Homo sapiens: one gene and its partner. The protein of the gene in region 1 interacts with the protein of each later gene in a pairwise test. Each region holds a gene or a part of one and is shown in the gene's direction. Other genes may lie near its edges.

Region 1 (8,013 bases):
TCAGAATATATTGTGGTGGTCAGAGTGATGCTCAAGTAAATTATAGGACCAGGAAAAATTTTGGGCATTAGTTTGTTGGCTAACTTCTTGGCAGTAGAGAAATTGGTCAGCCGATCTGGATGCCACATATTTGGCTGCTGATATGCCACAGAGAGGATTTCCATTACCCTTCAAGGCTACTCATTTTGGACAAGTATAACCAGAGCAGTTCATATCCTGGCTAGTGCTGCATCTATACTGGAGATAGGGAATTTTGGGAAAGGTAATCCTCAGTGTGGTTTGGTGACCCTGGTGCCTTTGCTTTTCAGACTTGTGTGTCGGGGGTGGAGTTGGGGGGGGGAGGGTTGGTTATTCGATTAGGCAACTGTTAAGGGGGTCGCCTGACTATTTCAGTTTTGGAGACTGCTGCGTGAGCCAGTACCAGAGATCTTGGCTGGTCATAGCAGAATATGGCAGCTCTATACCTTGTTGCCTTTCAGTCCGGGTGACCAGAATACCAGCCCACCTCTCTTCCAGTTCTTCTGGGAGAGAGAATCTGATTGGCTGAGTTTAGGTCTCTACTTCTGTTCTAATCATCCATAGCCGGGGGCTTAGAGTCAAAGCACACAAACCTGATCAGCAGATTATCCTGATGGATTGAAGGAAAGGAAGTGGGGAAGTTCTCTGAAAAGGGAAAATGTGGCCTGTGTGCTCAAAGATGGTTACAATAATGTGTTATATATTAGAAGCTTTCAAGGTGCCAGAGAAGAAATTACTCAATTTACCAGTTGCTTATTTATGGCATCTGTGTTGTTAGGAGCTGAAGGAGTGATTAGTTTGTGAATGAACAGATTTTGAATTAACTAGTTGTGAATTAATGTGGGACAAGATCATAAGATTTGATGGCCTGAACTTCTGTCACTGCTGCCTTGCTTCCTCCTCCAAAAATGGTCTGGAGGGCAGGGCTTGGTAGCTCACACCTGTAATTCCAGCGCTTTGAGAGGCAAGAGGATCGCTTGAAGCCAGGATTTCTGGGTTACAGCTAGCTCTGATCTTGACACTGCACTCCAGCCTGAGCGACAGAGGGAGACCCTGTCTCAAACTAGTCTGTAGAAGAGCTAAGCACAGGGATGGAGGAGAGCAGGAGTTGAGTTTCTGGAATCACTTACCTCTTCTTTAACCAGAGCAGCTTTTTCTTTACCCTTCCAGTTGCATATTTCCAATATTGTGGTCTGCTGGTGGCAGTCATTCACAAAAAGGTCCCTGCTACACTTTAACCTGGTTAATCTACTTTCCCTACTTCTCATCACTCAATGGGGAGGAGGGGGATCTATTGTAGTGACTTTTTTTTTTTTTTTAAGGATCTCCCTTCTGTATTCTTCATCCCCTTCTTTTCATGCATTGAGAATTTATTCTGTGTGTGTCTCAGAATGAGAGAGAATGTGCCTGTGAGAATCTGGTTGTGCATTTGGCCTGAGAGAGCCAGCGATGATAACTTTATCAATAGATACTGGGTAAACCAGAACATTTACCAAACTGGGTAAATTTGTTGTGTCATAATTCGAAGATCAGATTTGGGTCTTTCATGCTAAGAAGCCTAAGTAATTCTGTAACAGAAGGTCTTCTGTCTAGAAGGCTTAAGTGTTTGGTTTCCTTACACCTACCAGGAGTCACCATCCTGATAACTTCAAGTGCTGTTAGGATGCAGCAGGAGAATGGGAAGTTAATGGGGGATTTGAGGTTAGAGGTCCTCATCACGCTCCTCTCCCCATTTATTGGGCAGGGATACAGACTAATAGCTATGATAGATATAACAGAATCTTCCATATGATTCAAAGCTATTATGGGATGCAACTAAAATTTCCAAGGCTTCACCTGAGCTCATGTCTATGAAAGCACGTTCGAAACAAAATATATTTAACTTAAAGTGAAATAGGCTGGGCGCAGTGGCTCAAGGCTGTAATCTCAGCATTTTGGGAGCCTGGGGCGGGTGGATCACCTGATGTCACATTTTTTATTCTCTCATTTCCATTTCTCATATTTTTTAAATGAAAGCAATATTTGTGCAGACAGTACTGAAAAAATTCAAAATAGTGAAAGTCTTCCCTTTTCCATTAAATCCCACTCCCATTATGCTTTTAACCATTTTTGTTTGTTTGTTTTTAGGGTTTTATTGTTGTTCCAAAAGTCTAAAAATATACCATGCCTTTCTCTCTATATTTTTTCAACTCAAAAAAAATATTTCTTAACTTTTTGCTAGATAAGAAATTTAGGTCATTTTCCACCTGTCCTAGACTTTGATTTCTATCAGTTACATTTTGGTTCCTAATTTTGCTGTTATTTTTAACTTTTTATTATAAATTTCTGTTTATTGACCTATCACTTTTAGACAGTATATTTGGCCCTTCATGTCTGTGAATGACTTATCTTTGGTTTCAACCAACCTTGGATCAAAAATATTCAGGAAAAAAGGTTGGTTACATCTGTACTGAACATGTACAGACTTTTTTCCTTGTCAGTATTTCCTAAACAGTATAGTATAACAACCATTTCATAGCATTTGCCATATATTAGGTATTGTAAACTAGAAATGATGTAAAGTACGTAGGAGGATGTGTATAGCTTATATGCAAATACTATGCCATTTCATGTAAGAGACTTGAGCATTCTTGGATTTTGGTATCTGCAGGGGACCCTGGTACCAGCCCCCTACGGATACTGAGAGACAACTATATTTCCTCACTTCCTGGTCTTTCAGAAAAAGATATAACACCGATCCCTTTCCTTTTGGGATTTAAAAGCCAAACCTTGCCTTTGTTTTTCCCTCCTCCCTTCCTAGCCTTTGTTTTCTTTTTTCCTTTTTTTTTTGAGACAGGATTTTGCTCTTGTTGCCCAGGCTGGAGAGCAATGGCGCCATCTTGGCTCACTGCAACCTCCGCCTCCTGGGTTCAAGCGATTCTCCTGCCTCAGCCTCGCGATTAGCTGGGATTACAGGCACCTGCAACCATGCCTGGCTAATTTTTGTATTTGTAATAGAGACAGGGTTTCACCATGTTGGTCAGGCTGGTCTTGAACTCCTGACCTCCGGTGATCCACTCCCCCTCCCTTGGCCTCCCAAAGTGGTGGGATTACAGGCATGAGCCGCTGAGCCCGGCCCCAGCCTTTGTTTTTGGTTAGTACTGTTACATTGGCAAGATTTATTGCATTTATATAATGTTTTATAACTCTTCTAAAGTTTTCTGTGCTTCTGCAGGAAAATCTAGAAATTGAGTACTAATAGCCACTCTTTTAAATATGTATGTTGACATGAGTATTAGTTACTATAGAACCAAGTACTGTGGAGCCATAGAGAAACTTCACTTCTGTTAAACCTGTGATCCTTAAAAAGGAAATATAACAAAGTCAGCCGGGCACAGTGGCTCACGTCTGTAAGCCCAGCACTTTGAGAGGCCCAGGCAGGCGGATCGCCTCAGGTCAGGAGTTAGAGACCAGCCTGGCTAACATGGTGAAACCCCGTCTCTACTAAAAATGCAAAAATTAGCCCGACGTGGTGGTGGGCACCTGTAATCCCAGCTACTCGGGAGGCTGAGGCAGGAGAATTGCTTGAACCCGGGAGGTGGAGGTTGCAGTGAGCCAAGATCATGTCATTGCACTCCAGGCTGGGTGACAAAGCAAGGCTTCGTCTCAGGAAAAAAAAAAAAAAAAGAAATATAACAAAGTCCTGGTTGAATGAGGAAAGCTCATTGAAGTTATTTTTAAAATTTAATATTATAATGGGTTCTCATGTTGTAGCCATTCAGCTTGTCTTGGTAGACTTTCCGGAGTCTTGGCCTGCCTTTTCTAATTTGGGAAGCTTAGTAGACCTGTTACCCAGCTGTCATCCTGGGATTACTTCACATTGTTCTCCTGGGTTAGATCTATTGTTATTTGGATCCCATGTTTTTCTCTTTTAGATACCTTTTTTATTTTACAGGAATACAGCCTTCAATAGTTGTTTCTGGAAGGATATGCTGGTGATAAACTTTCTGAGTTCTCGAATGTTGAAAATGGCTTGTCTTTGTTCCTGATTGAAAGTTTACATGTGGAATTATAAATTCCTCAGAATTTTGAAAACTTTGCTGTGGGAATCTAAAATACTTGGTGTGCTAATCAGAGGTCCATTGCAGATCTGATGGTTATTCTCCTGTAGAAGATTGTAATCTACAATTGTAGTCTACGATCTACGGGATTTGTTTACATTCTGAAAGGTTTCTTTGATTTTGTCTTTGAACTTTTCTATAAAATTTATTTCAGTAGTTATCTTTAATTTATAAGAGTTCTTCTATCATCTTTCATTTTTCTTTCTTTTTAAATAGCAACCTGTCCTTGATTTATGGGGAAATACCTTGAATTTCTCTGATGCTAATTTCTCTAGAGTTCTTGAGACACTTCCCTGAATTGGTGACTCTAACAGTGGGTTTGTATTTAGGTATTCCATACTAATTTTTGTATTTTAAATATTTAAGTTATTTGATAAGTACAAAAGATTATAACAGGTAAGGCGTATGTAAACAAACATACATATAATTACCAACCAGTTTACTAATTCATTAGTGTAACTTTAGCAGGATGCACTTTCCTGATCACATCCACTGCAACCATGTCCACCTTCACCAATGACAGTAGCCATTGTACTGAATTTTGGATTCATCATTCCTGGTCTGTCTTTATACTTTTAACATATATACATATGTAAAATTTATTTATTTATTTATTTATTTTTTGAGACGGAGTTTTGCTCTTCTTGCCCAGGCTGGAGTGCAGTGGCGCGATCTTGACTCACCGCAACCTCCTCCTCCCAGGTTCAAGCAATTTTACTGCCTCAGCCTCCCGAGTAGCCGGGATTACAGGTGTGCACCATGCCCGGCTAATTTTTTTGTATTATTAGTTTTCACCATGTTGGCCAGGCTGGTCTTGAACTCCTGACTTCAGGTGATCCACCCGCCTTGGCCTCCCAAAGTGCTGGGATCACAGGTGTGAGCTACTGTGTCTGGCCATCCATATTTCTTAAATCCAAATGTTTGAAAATGAAGAGAAAAAAACTGTAAAGTTTCACCAAACTTGTCTTGCAGAAAAACCCTGACCTGCACTGATATTGTAATCTTTGTTGATCTCACTTAGTGTGAATATTTGTATGTTTCACTGTAGAGATTCTAGGAATAGAATTGCTGGTATTTAAGAAGAATGTGTGCATATTCACCAATATTGGATAATGTCAGATTATCTTCCAAAAAAGGTGGTGTCAGTCTTCGTTCTCTCCAGCAATGCAGAAGTTTTCATTACTCAGCTTTCTTGCTAACATCTACTTTTGTCACACTTCAAAAGGTTTTATCGGTTGGGCATGGTAGCTCACGCCTGTAATCCTAGCACTTTGGGAGGCCATGGTGGGTGGATGGCTTGAGACCAGGAGTTTGAGACCAGCCTGGGTAAAATGGTGAAACCCCATCTCTACCAAAACAAAACAAAATTAGCTGGGCATAGTGGCCCACACCTGTAGTCCCAGCTACTTGGCAGGCTGAGATGGGAGGATCACCTGAAGCTAGGAAGTGAGCTGTGATCATGCCATTGCACGCCAGCTTGGGCAACAGAGTGAGACCCTGTTTCAAAAAAAAAAGTTTTTACCCACGAGTATAAAATACCACCTTTTAGTTTTCATTTGCTTTGCTAATGAGTTTGAGCATCTTTTACTATACTGATTAGCCATTCTTCCCTTTTCTCACATTCCTATTCATGTCTTTTGCCCATGTTTGTACTAGTTTTTTAAAAAAATTATTTCATACTGATTTTTAATAGTTTCACAGTTGGATGCATGTGGTGCAAATTTCTCCTTTCAATTGGGCTCACTTTTAAATCATTTTTATTTTTATTTTTTGAGATGGAGTCTCACTCTGTAGCCCTGGCTGGAGTGCAGTGGCGTGATCTCAGTTTACTGCACCCTCCACCCCCAAGGTTCAAGAGATTCTCCTGTCTCAGACTTCTGAGTAGCTGGGATTACAGGTACCCGCCACCATGCCTGGCTAATATTTGTATTTTTAATAGAGACGGGGTTTCACCATGTTGGTCAAGCTGGTCTCGAACTCCTGACCTCAGGTGATCTGCCCACCTTGGTCTCCCAAAGTGCTGGGATTATAGGCATGAGCAACTGCATCCAGCCTTATGCGTTTTTTGATGAGTAGAAGTTCTTAATTTTTATGTGATTGCATTTATCAGGCTTTTCTTTATGGATAGTGCTTTTGAATCTTGTTGAAGAAATTTTTCAACAGAGTTCTCGAAGATATTTTCCATTATTGTAAAAGTATAAGACGTAGTTTTTTTGTTTTTTGTTTTTGTTTTTTTTTTACCTTTTCTCATTTAAGGTTTTAATCCACCTGGAGTTGATTTTGTATACAGTGTGAAGTGGTGACCAAGATGCATGGTTTTTCCTCAAAGAATAATAAATTGTTCCATCACCTTTCATGCAAATTTTTTTCTTCACTGGTTTGGATGCCATCACTCATCTGTGCTTTGGTTCTGGACTCTGGGCCGTTAGTCTGTTTTTACAGAAATTGTTAAAAAGTTACAGTAACTAAAACAAGATGATGCTGCTGCTAGCATAAACAAACTTCTTGCCTGGTGAGGTGGCTCAAGGCTGTAATCCCATCACTTTGGGAGGCCATGGTGGGAGCATCACTTGAGCCAGGAGTTCAAGACCAGCCTGGGCAACATGGTGAGACCCCATCTCTGTGTAAGATAATATTTTTTATAATAAAAAACCAAACTTCTTTTGATATATAGCATACACATAGGAAGTACACAGATAATGAAATTATAGCTGGATGAATTTTCTCAAAATAATAATCGTGCAGGTCAAGAAAGAGAACATTACCAGCACTCTAAATATTCCCCTCCCCAGTGGCTAACCTCACCTCATTCTTCCAAAAGCGACCTACTATCCTAACTTTAACAGATTAGTATTGCCTGTTTTTGAACTTTATATAAATGGAACCTGTGTAGTATATATACAGTTGCCCCTTGGTGTACCTGGGGGATTGGTTCTAGGATCCACCCTCCCAACAGGAAAATCATGTGTACTCAAGTCCTGAAGTTGGCCCTGCAGAACCCATGTATAGGAAAAGTTGGCCCTCTGTATATGTGGGTTTCACGTCCTGCAAATACCATATTTTTGATCTGCATTTGGTTGAAAAAAAAATATGCGTATAAGTGGACCTGCACAGTTCAAACCAGTTGACAAGATACAGTTGACCTTTGACTAACACAGGTTTTTGTTATTGGATATGTTATTGTTATTCAATATTCAACTATATGTTATTGTTATTCAAAGGTCAACTGTATTCTGTTTCTGTATATGTATTCTGTTGTTTCTGCCTTTTTTTCTGTTTCGTTTGCCAGATTCATCCTTATTGTTGTCTGTAGTTGTAGTTGGTTCATTCCCTTTTGCTAGTGATATAGTAGAGTTCCAGTTGCTCCATATCCTTGTCTACCCTTTTAATTTTAGACACTCTGGTGAATGTGTAGTGGTTTTAATTTGCATCTCCCTAATAAGTAATGATGTCAAGCTCCTTTGAATGTGCTTATTGGCCATTTGGGTTTCTTTTGTAAAGTGGCTTGCCAAGTCTTTTACTCATTTTTATATTGGGACATCTGTCTTTTCCATACTGATTCGTAGGAGTTCATTATACATCTTGGAAACCATCTCTTGCTGGTTATGTTTTGCACATACCTTCTCTTGTTTCCCCTGAGTCTATTCAGAGTTCTGCTGGACTTTTAACCTCTCCATTGCCCTTTTCCATTGGCAGATATCTCCGGGGAAGGCATCAAGAGACTCAGCTTTGCAGGCTCTCCTTCTTTTCAGAGTCTTGGTGTCTCAGGTCCTTACTGCCTTTGTAGTGCCTCCTGCATTCACACAGATTTTTGTTTTTTAATATTATATTCAGTTGTTAAGTTCTCACAGGGAGGGTTGGTATGAAACAGTCTAGTCAGTCATTGAGGGAGACA
Region 2 (8,188 bases), on another chromosome or scaffold:
AGTTTCACTATGTTGCCCAGGCTGGTCTGAACCTCCTGATCTCAAACGATCCTCCTGCTTCAGCTTCCCAAAGTGCTGGAATTACAGGCATGAGCCACAGTGCCCATCCAGTTCCCTTAAATTTTGTTGAAAACATAGGAAGCACAAAATCTTGAACTTCCTATCACATATTGGTATTTTATGGGGAAGAGCCATTTTGTAATTGTTAGAAAAACATGTTTTCCTATAGCATAATTTTTATACGTATTTATAGGCCCAAACATATTTAGTCTTTATATTAAATTTAAGAGACCCAGGGCAAACATATTTATGGTCAGCAATTTGTTCCAGTTTTTGTCTTATTTGGAAATAACTCACATAGTTAATGAGTATCCATTACCTAATAGAGGATTTCAAATTACATTAAAAAGCCGATAGATACTTATCCCATTTACCTTTACATACTTTATTTATTTTTAGCAGTTTACCAGGATTACTTATGAGAACTGATATATTAGACAAAGCTAGTCATCATTTCAAATTATTTATCTGTTAATTACCTTTATATAGCTGGATGTCAGGCAACTATCATAAAAGTAAGAACCTTTAAGGCCGGATGCTGTGGCTCACGCCTGTAATCCCAGCACTTTAGGAGGCCGAGGTGGGCAGATCACGAGGTCAGGAGATCAAGACCATCCTGGCTAACACAGTGAAACCCCATCTCTACTAAAAAAAAAAAAAAAATACAAAAAATTAGCCGGGCGTGGTGGCAGGCGCCTGTAGTCCCAGCTACTCGGGAGGCTGAGGAAGGAGAATGGCGTGAACCCGGGAGGCAGAGCTTGCAGTGAGCCGAGATCACGCCACTGCACTCCAGCCTGGGCGACAGAGCGAGACTCCGTCTCAAAAAAAAAAAAAAAAAAGTAAGAACCTTTAAGTTACATTTCAGAAGGCACACCATTCCCATCAAACCAACAATTTTAGACTAGTTCCATTCACCAAAAGATTACTGTCATGTGAACTTGAAAAGCACTTGGTCTTATTTGCTTAGTTTATGAGTACTCATTTCTTTATAAGCCAATTCGGTACCATAGCCAAATATAACCGGACGTGTACATACTACCAGATACAAATAACGATCCTATAGCTTTAACTTTTAAAGGTTTAGCCATGGGTCAGGTAAAATTCACTACTTAAAAGACAGTTCCAACTCTGTCTCCGTCCAACTAACAATTTTAGCTAAAATTTATCTCTCCCATACAGCAGAAGCCCTTTCCTAAATTTTAGGAAGAACACGGTAGAAAGGAGACAGGCAAAAATTTGGCTCTAGTGTCGGAAAACCCGTGAGTCTCTCCCACAGCAATTGTTACCCGATCTAGGGGTTCCCAGATCATAGAGGAGTCCCCAAGTCCCATCACTTCTGGTCACTATTAGCAAACTGTAGCATCTGGTGGGCTGATTGACGGGGAAGTTTCTTTCCCTACCCACTGGGGACAGTTAGGACACTCTAGTACCCAATGGCCCTCTTGTTTACAATATGCACACTGTTGTGTTCTCAAGGGCGGGAGGCCCTTTGGCCGGGCAGTGGGGTCCCTAGGGATCTTACTTATGGCTGATCATCTCCAGTGAACTGTTTTGTTTTTTTGTTTTTTGTTTTTTTCAAGAAAGAGTTTTGCTCTTGTCGCACAGGCTAGAGTGCAATGGCGCGATATCAGCTTACAACCTTCGCTTCCTGGGTTGAAGCGATTCTCCTGCTTCAGCCTCCCGAGTAGTTGGGATTACAAGTGCCCACCACCATGCCTGGCTAATTTTTTATATTTTTAGTAGAGACAGGGTTAGCCATGTTGGCCACGCTGGTCTTGAACTCCTGACCTCAGGTGATCCTCCCGCCTCAGCCTCCCAAAGTGCTGGGATTACGGACATGAGCCACCACGCCTGGCCGCAGTGAACTGTTTCTTGTGTACTGGCTGGTTGTAGCCAAGAGACTCGATGGCTTCTTGTCTTGTGTTGCCTTTTTGTTTTTTGTTTTTTGTTTTTTTTTTGCCCTTCCTGGACCTGGCCACAGTTGCTCAATACCTTAAGGGTAATCTCAACCAATGGAGATGTCAGCATCCCCAGTGTCCCTTCTGCTTTTTGTAGTTTATCCGCATGGCTTCTGCCACTGGAGTCCTGCTACAATTACTGTTTTCCCATATTACCCACCCAGCAGCTTAGAGGCGGGATTGGTGGTGACACAGATCCCACAACTCTTGGCCCACACTCAACTAGTTTTAAAAATATATTGGTGGGGAGGGGCGGGCATGGTGGCTCATGCCTATAATCACCACGCTTTGGGAGGCCGAGGTGGGTGGATCACTTGAGCTTAGGAGTTCGAGACCAACCTAGGTAAGATGGTGAAACCCTGTCTCTATAATATTAGGTTGGTTCAAAAGTAACCGCTGTTTTTGCCATTGAAAGTAATGGCAAAAACTGCAATTACTTTTGTACCAATCTAATTTTTTAAAAATTAATTAATTAAAAAAAATTGGAAGGCATAGATTTCACTCGGCAAGGCAGGAAATCTTGTAACTGCTCTATACTGTGGCTCTGCCGACCGCCCGGCACTGCTCCAGCAGATGCAAACTGCCCGAGATTTTGATGAATTCACTGAAGGAAATAAAGACATTGTGTTTAAAAACACAGCAGAAAGGTTGGGTGTGGTGGCTTATGCCTGTAATCTCAGCACTTTAGGAGGCTGAAGGGGGTGGATCACTTGAGCTCAGGAGTTTGAGACCAGACTGGACAACATAGCAAGACCCCATCTCAAAAAAAAAATTAGCTGGGTGCGTGCCTGTAGTTTCAGCTACTTGGGAGGCTGAGATGGGAGGACTGCTTGAACCTGGAAGTTGGAGGTTGCAGTGAGCCACAGTCGAGCCACTGCACTCCAGCCTGGGTGACAGAGCCGGACCTTGTCTCAAAATTAAAAAAAAAAAAAACCCACTGCAGAAGACCTTCAGAATTGCTTGCCTCTAGAAACCATGCTTTCCTCAGAACATCTAACCCTTCAAAAACTACAGCAGCAGCCAGAACCCACCATTCACGCTGACGCATTCCTTTGTGATAAAGACTTCATTGATTCATTATGTGACAAAGGGAAAATGAGCAGAAACTACTGGGTGGTTCACACCAAACAGAACCTTTAGACCGATTGCTCGTTCCTTCTCCCTCATGGAATTGAAGTTCATTTATCTTCATGCACTCCCTGATCAATCAGGAAAGGCTGTGGCTGACGTCAGCTCCAGGCTCAGCACAGTCTTTATGGGGTGATCTTATAGCTTAGCAGTGCAACCCTGTGGAGTAGAACTGAACGGAGACTTTTGCCAGTTGCAGGAAATGGTCATTAAAAAATACCAGTTTATTCACAGAATAAAGGTGCTTCATGCAGACATCTGTCCCCAGGGTTTCTTCTGCAAAATGCTGATGCTGCTATCATGAATAATGTCTTCAAATATTCTCTTAATGAGGCAGAACAAGCCGGAGCTGGGAATACATTTGTCATAATGTAAGGAAGCAGATCATCATCAGTGACAGTGCCAAGTCTTGAAGATTCTCTCCTGGGTCTTCAGACTAATACACATTTATCTCCCTGGGTTGAAGAAGTACTGTGGGACTATGATGTATACCCACAAAAGGATATTGACAAAGAAGCTCTTTATTTATTTATTTATTTATTTATTTATTTATTTATTTATTTATTTTCTTTTGAGACAAGGTCTCACTGTGTTGTCTAGCCTGGAATGCAGCCATACGATAACGGCTCACTGTACTCACGGTACGATTACCTCCAACTCCCCGTGCTCAAGTGATTCTCCCGCCTCAGCCTCCTGAGTAGCTGGGGCCACAGCTGTGTGTGCCACCACCTGGCTAATTTTTTTTTTTTTTTTTTTTTGAGACAGAGTTTCGCTCTTGTCGCCCAGGCTGTAGTGCAATGGCATGATCTCGGCTCACTGCAACCTCTGCCTCATGCCTCAGCCTCCCAAGTAGCTGGGATTACAGGCACCCACCACCATGCCTGGATAAATTTTGTATTTTTAGTACAGACGGGGTTTTGCCATGTTGCCCAGGCTGGTCTTACACTCCTGACATCAGGTGATCCACTCGCCTCAGCCTCCCAAAGTGCTGGGATTATAGGTGTGAGCCACCGCGCCCACCCTAATTTTTTTTTTTTTTTTGGTAGAGACAGGGTCTCCCTATGTTGCCCAGGCTGGTCTTGAACACCTAGGCTCAAGCAATCTGCCCCCCTTGGCCTCCCAAAGTGTTGGGGTTACAGGTGTGAGCCACTGCACCCAGCTGACAAAGAAGCTCTTGAACAAATTCATTTAATGAGATTCTCTAGCACTAAAATAGTCCTACCTCATTGTAATGTTTTGTAGAGTATCTTATAAAACAATGAAAAAAAACCAGTATTTTAATACATATTTTTCTGTATATTTCCTTCTAGCCTTTGTACATATGATCACATATTTGTAAAAAGTTGTATGTATATATATACAACTTTACCCGCTTTGTGTGATGATATGACAAAAACATTTATCTGAAAAAAGTATTTTTTTCATCAAATGGCAGAGCTCCTGTTTCTGGTAACCCGGGGTATGGCAAGTAGGGGCTCTGGGAGATGGAGCAGCTCAGCCTCCTGTGAAAAATTCTGTTTCTCTAAAAAAGAACAAATTCTCATGCTGGGCGCGGTGGCTCACGCCTGTAATCTCAGCACTTTGGGAGGCCGAGGCGGGCGGATCACGAGGTCAAGAGATCGAGACCATCCTGGCTAACACGGTGAAACCCCGTCTCTACTAAAAATGCAAAAAATTAGCCGGGCGTGGTGGCGGGCGCCTGTGGTCCCAGCTACTCAGGAAGCTGAGGCAGGAGAATGGCGTGAACCCGGGAGGTGGAGCTTGCAGTGAGCCGAGATCGCGCCACTGCACCCCAGCTTGGGTGACAGAGCCAGACTCTGTCTCAAAAAAAAAAAAACGAATTCCCAAAACTAGTCCCACTGTTGTCTACCCAGATCCGGGATCCGGGTTGCCCTTGGCCTGGCCAGAGATGCCTCTCAATCCCCCACGGCACGTAGAGCCAGACAGAAACCGAAAGCAGAGGTGCCCTGCGCTGAAGTCTAGAGATCCCACTGCTAGGTCCAAAGAATTTACCCTTTCAGTCAACCCACGGGGCAAAGTCCACTTTCTTCCCTGAAGGAGCAGCACAGAACAAAAGCTCCAGGCAGCTGCTTCCGCTGTTTCGGGGGTAGGGCGGAGTGACAGCCCCACGGGCCACGCAGCAAGCAGAAGATCCCCGGGAGTCACCCTCAACCCTCTGGGGCCACGTGGGTGAGTTCGCCCGGGGAAGGTGCCGCGGCCCACTGCTTTACCTTAGTGAGCCTCAAGAAGTTAGGATCAGAATCCCAGTCGGCCCCATCTGGGTCGCCAGAGTTTTGTTACCCACACAACGGGTGGGCTCAGTTGCTTGGCGGGTGTTAACTAAAGAGGATTTAATAGGGGATTTTATTTCTTGCAACAAGTAAGGAGAACACCTAGACAGCTCCCAAAGCAGTGTCTCCCCGAGCTGAGGGCTGGGGCAGGTTTTATAAGCATAGGGTAATGAGGCGTGATCTGATTGCATCTTGCAATGAGGTGATGCTGGGAGGCATGATCTAATTGGATGCTGACACAGGGGGGAACCACAGCTCTGACCCCTCTCTGGGTCTCAGTTTCCCCAACTGCAGTGAGGAAATTGGCCCCCGTGATGATGCCCATGACATCACCATCCTCTGCCCTCACTCATGCTGGGGTCTCCATGTGCCCATTTTCAAGCTTGTGCCCGCCCTTTGTTCCTCACTCCCCACAGCTGCCCTTGGCCAGGACTTTCACAGGGTGGAGCCAAGGCCCAGAGAGGGCACTGAATCTCTCCAGGTCACACAGCCTGTCAGGGAGGTGGGGCCAGAGCCAGGTCACACGTGTGCACACAACACACACACACGCACACATGCTCACGCACATGCACGCACACACGCTCTCAAGCACATGCACACATGCACACACATGCACACACACTCTCATGCACACACGCACACATGTACACACACATGCATGCACACATGCACACAATACTCTCATGCACATGCACACACGTACACACGCACACATGCATGCTGTCACACATGCGCACACACGCACACATGCTCTCATGCACACACGCACACATGTACACATACATGCACACATGCACACAATACTCATGCACATGCACACACATGTACACACGCACGCACACACGCATGCTGTCACGTACACATGTGAGTGCACACACGCACACACATGCTCTCATGCACACGCACACATGTACAGATGCACACATGCATGCACACACATGCACACACGCGCACACACTGCCAGGACTGGGGGCTGCTGTTTCTGAGGGTTCCTGGACCCCGTTCTGTTCCATAAACACTCACTGAAATGCAGAAGCTGGACCCCAGCCAAGGGAAGTGAAACTTTCCAGCACCCCTACTGCTGTTCTCCCTAAACTTGGGGGCCCAGCACCTTGTGGCAGGAAGCACCCTGGCCCCCAGCAGCCCCCAAAATAGCTAGGTCTGCCACGGAGGCCCTTCCTTCCTGAGAGGTACCACACCGAGTCAGCAGGATCCCAGCCTCTGTGGGGGTTGGGGGGGCCTTCCAACAAAGACCATGGCCTGGGACTCATAAAGCAGCATGGGGGTCCCTGAGACCCCTACCCCAAGCAAGGAAGGAACAGACCCAGGCCGACAGGCTCCTCTGCTGACTCCCTCTCCCACCACCTGCCAAGGACTCAGTCAAGTCACCCAACCCCTAGAGCTTCAGTCCACACCTGCAAAATGGAGCCGGTGACAGCTGCCCCCAGGGCTGGGCCGGATACAGGAGTTGATGGCATGGCATGGCCCCCTAATGGCAGTCTCTGCCCTCCCTTTGCTGAGGCTCCAGGTGCCAGGAGGAGTGGCCCCTGGAGGGGGCTCATAGGGAGCCCCGGCCCACTGGGGGCTCAGCCTCACACTCCATCCACCCCTCTTGACACCCTGTCAAGATCCCAGCTGCCCTGATGGGAGCCAGGATGACAAATCCCCTGTCCCCACAATCGCCATGCTCTGAGCTCACGAAGCCTTGGGTGTGGAGGGCAGGAGAGCCCAGGCCACACAGAGCTGAGTGTGATCTGGGGCAGCTTCCGAGAGGGTGTAACTTAGAGGGTCCTGGCCACCCAGAGCCCCCCAGGCTGGTGGGCCTGGCATCTGGAGCAGGGCTGGACTGGCCCGGGGAGACCCAGTGTGGTGGTAAAGAAGGCCCAGGATCGATGCCTGGGGGAGGCTCCAGCTCAGGGTCCCAGCACCTGGCATCCAGCAGGCCCTGGCGGAGCAGCTTGCCTCACTCCCCAGTGACTTCGGAACTGGCCTCAGCTCCTCCCAGCAGACAGCTGAGCCTGGTGGGAGGTAGAGGCCCCAGGGCTGAGTGCAGGGGACCTCACCTTCATCCTTCCCCACTTTGCTCTTGAGAGGCAGCAGGAGGGGATGGAGCCACATTGGACGCACTGAGTGCCACCTACAGCCCGCCTCTAGGGCTCTGTGCGCCACCTGCAGCCCGCCTCTAGGGCTCTGTGTGCCGCTGAACAGTCTGCCCCTAGGGTTCTGTGGGCCACCTGCAGCCTGCCTCTAGGGCTTGTGTGCCTGCAGACAATTTTCTGAGCCTCAGTTTTCACATCTATAAAATGAGCCTGAGGGTTGTTCCCAAAACAGGGCAAACCGAGTCATCTGAGTTACACTGTCCTTGAAAATGACTGAAATCCCGGATCAAACATTTTAAAATTTTGCTTAAAGCAACAAAGAGCTGTAAAACTGGGGCTCCACATGGCACCTTTGGGTAAGGGCGACTCAGGAGTGACCACAGCCCTCTCCGGGCTGCAAGGACAGAGGCATGTTGCCGAGGTGGTGAAGGAGGGGCAGCTTGTCATCTTGGTGGCCATCAAGGTGACACCTCTATAGTAACTTTCAATAGCCTGCTCTGGTGGTGACCAAAACCAAGTCACCACCCCACTGCGGGTGTACCTCTTAGTAGTGTTAAGGAAGGTGGCCCCTCTGGGGCCCAGCAGAAGGACGAAGGGCAGGGGCAGGAACTTGCCCGCAGGACCTGGACTCGTTGGGCCGTGGCAGCACAAG

Evidence for each region. Proteins that work in one complex are often made in the same cells at the same time.
Region 2: the proteins of PIAS2 (region 1) and ACY3 interact in binary tests that used the Homo sapiens proteins (3 or more experiments, as listed by UniProt).

What each region holds. Positions count from the first base shown.
Region 1 is NC_000018.10:46,906,886-46,914,898, reverse strand, and holds part of PIAS2 (E3 SUMO-protein ligase PIAS2), read left to right. Parts: intron 1-8,013. UniProt on the Homo sapiens protein: Functions as an E3-type small ubiquitin-like modifier (SUMO) ligase, stabilizing the interaction between UBE2I and the substrate, and as a SUMO-tethering factor.
Region 2 is NC_000011.10:67,647,731-67,655,918, reverse strand, and holds the start of ACY3 (N-acyl-aromatic-L-amino acid amidohydrolase (carboxylate-forming)), read left to right. Parts: upstream 1-5,188; 5' UTR 5,189-5,336; intron 5,337-8,188. UniProt on the Homo sapiens protein: Plays an important role in deacetylating mercapturic acids in kidney proximal tubules. Also acts on N-acetyl-aromatic amino acids.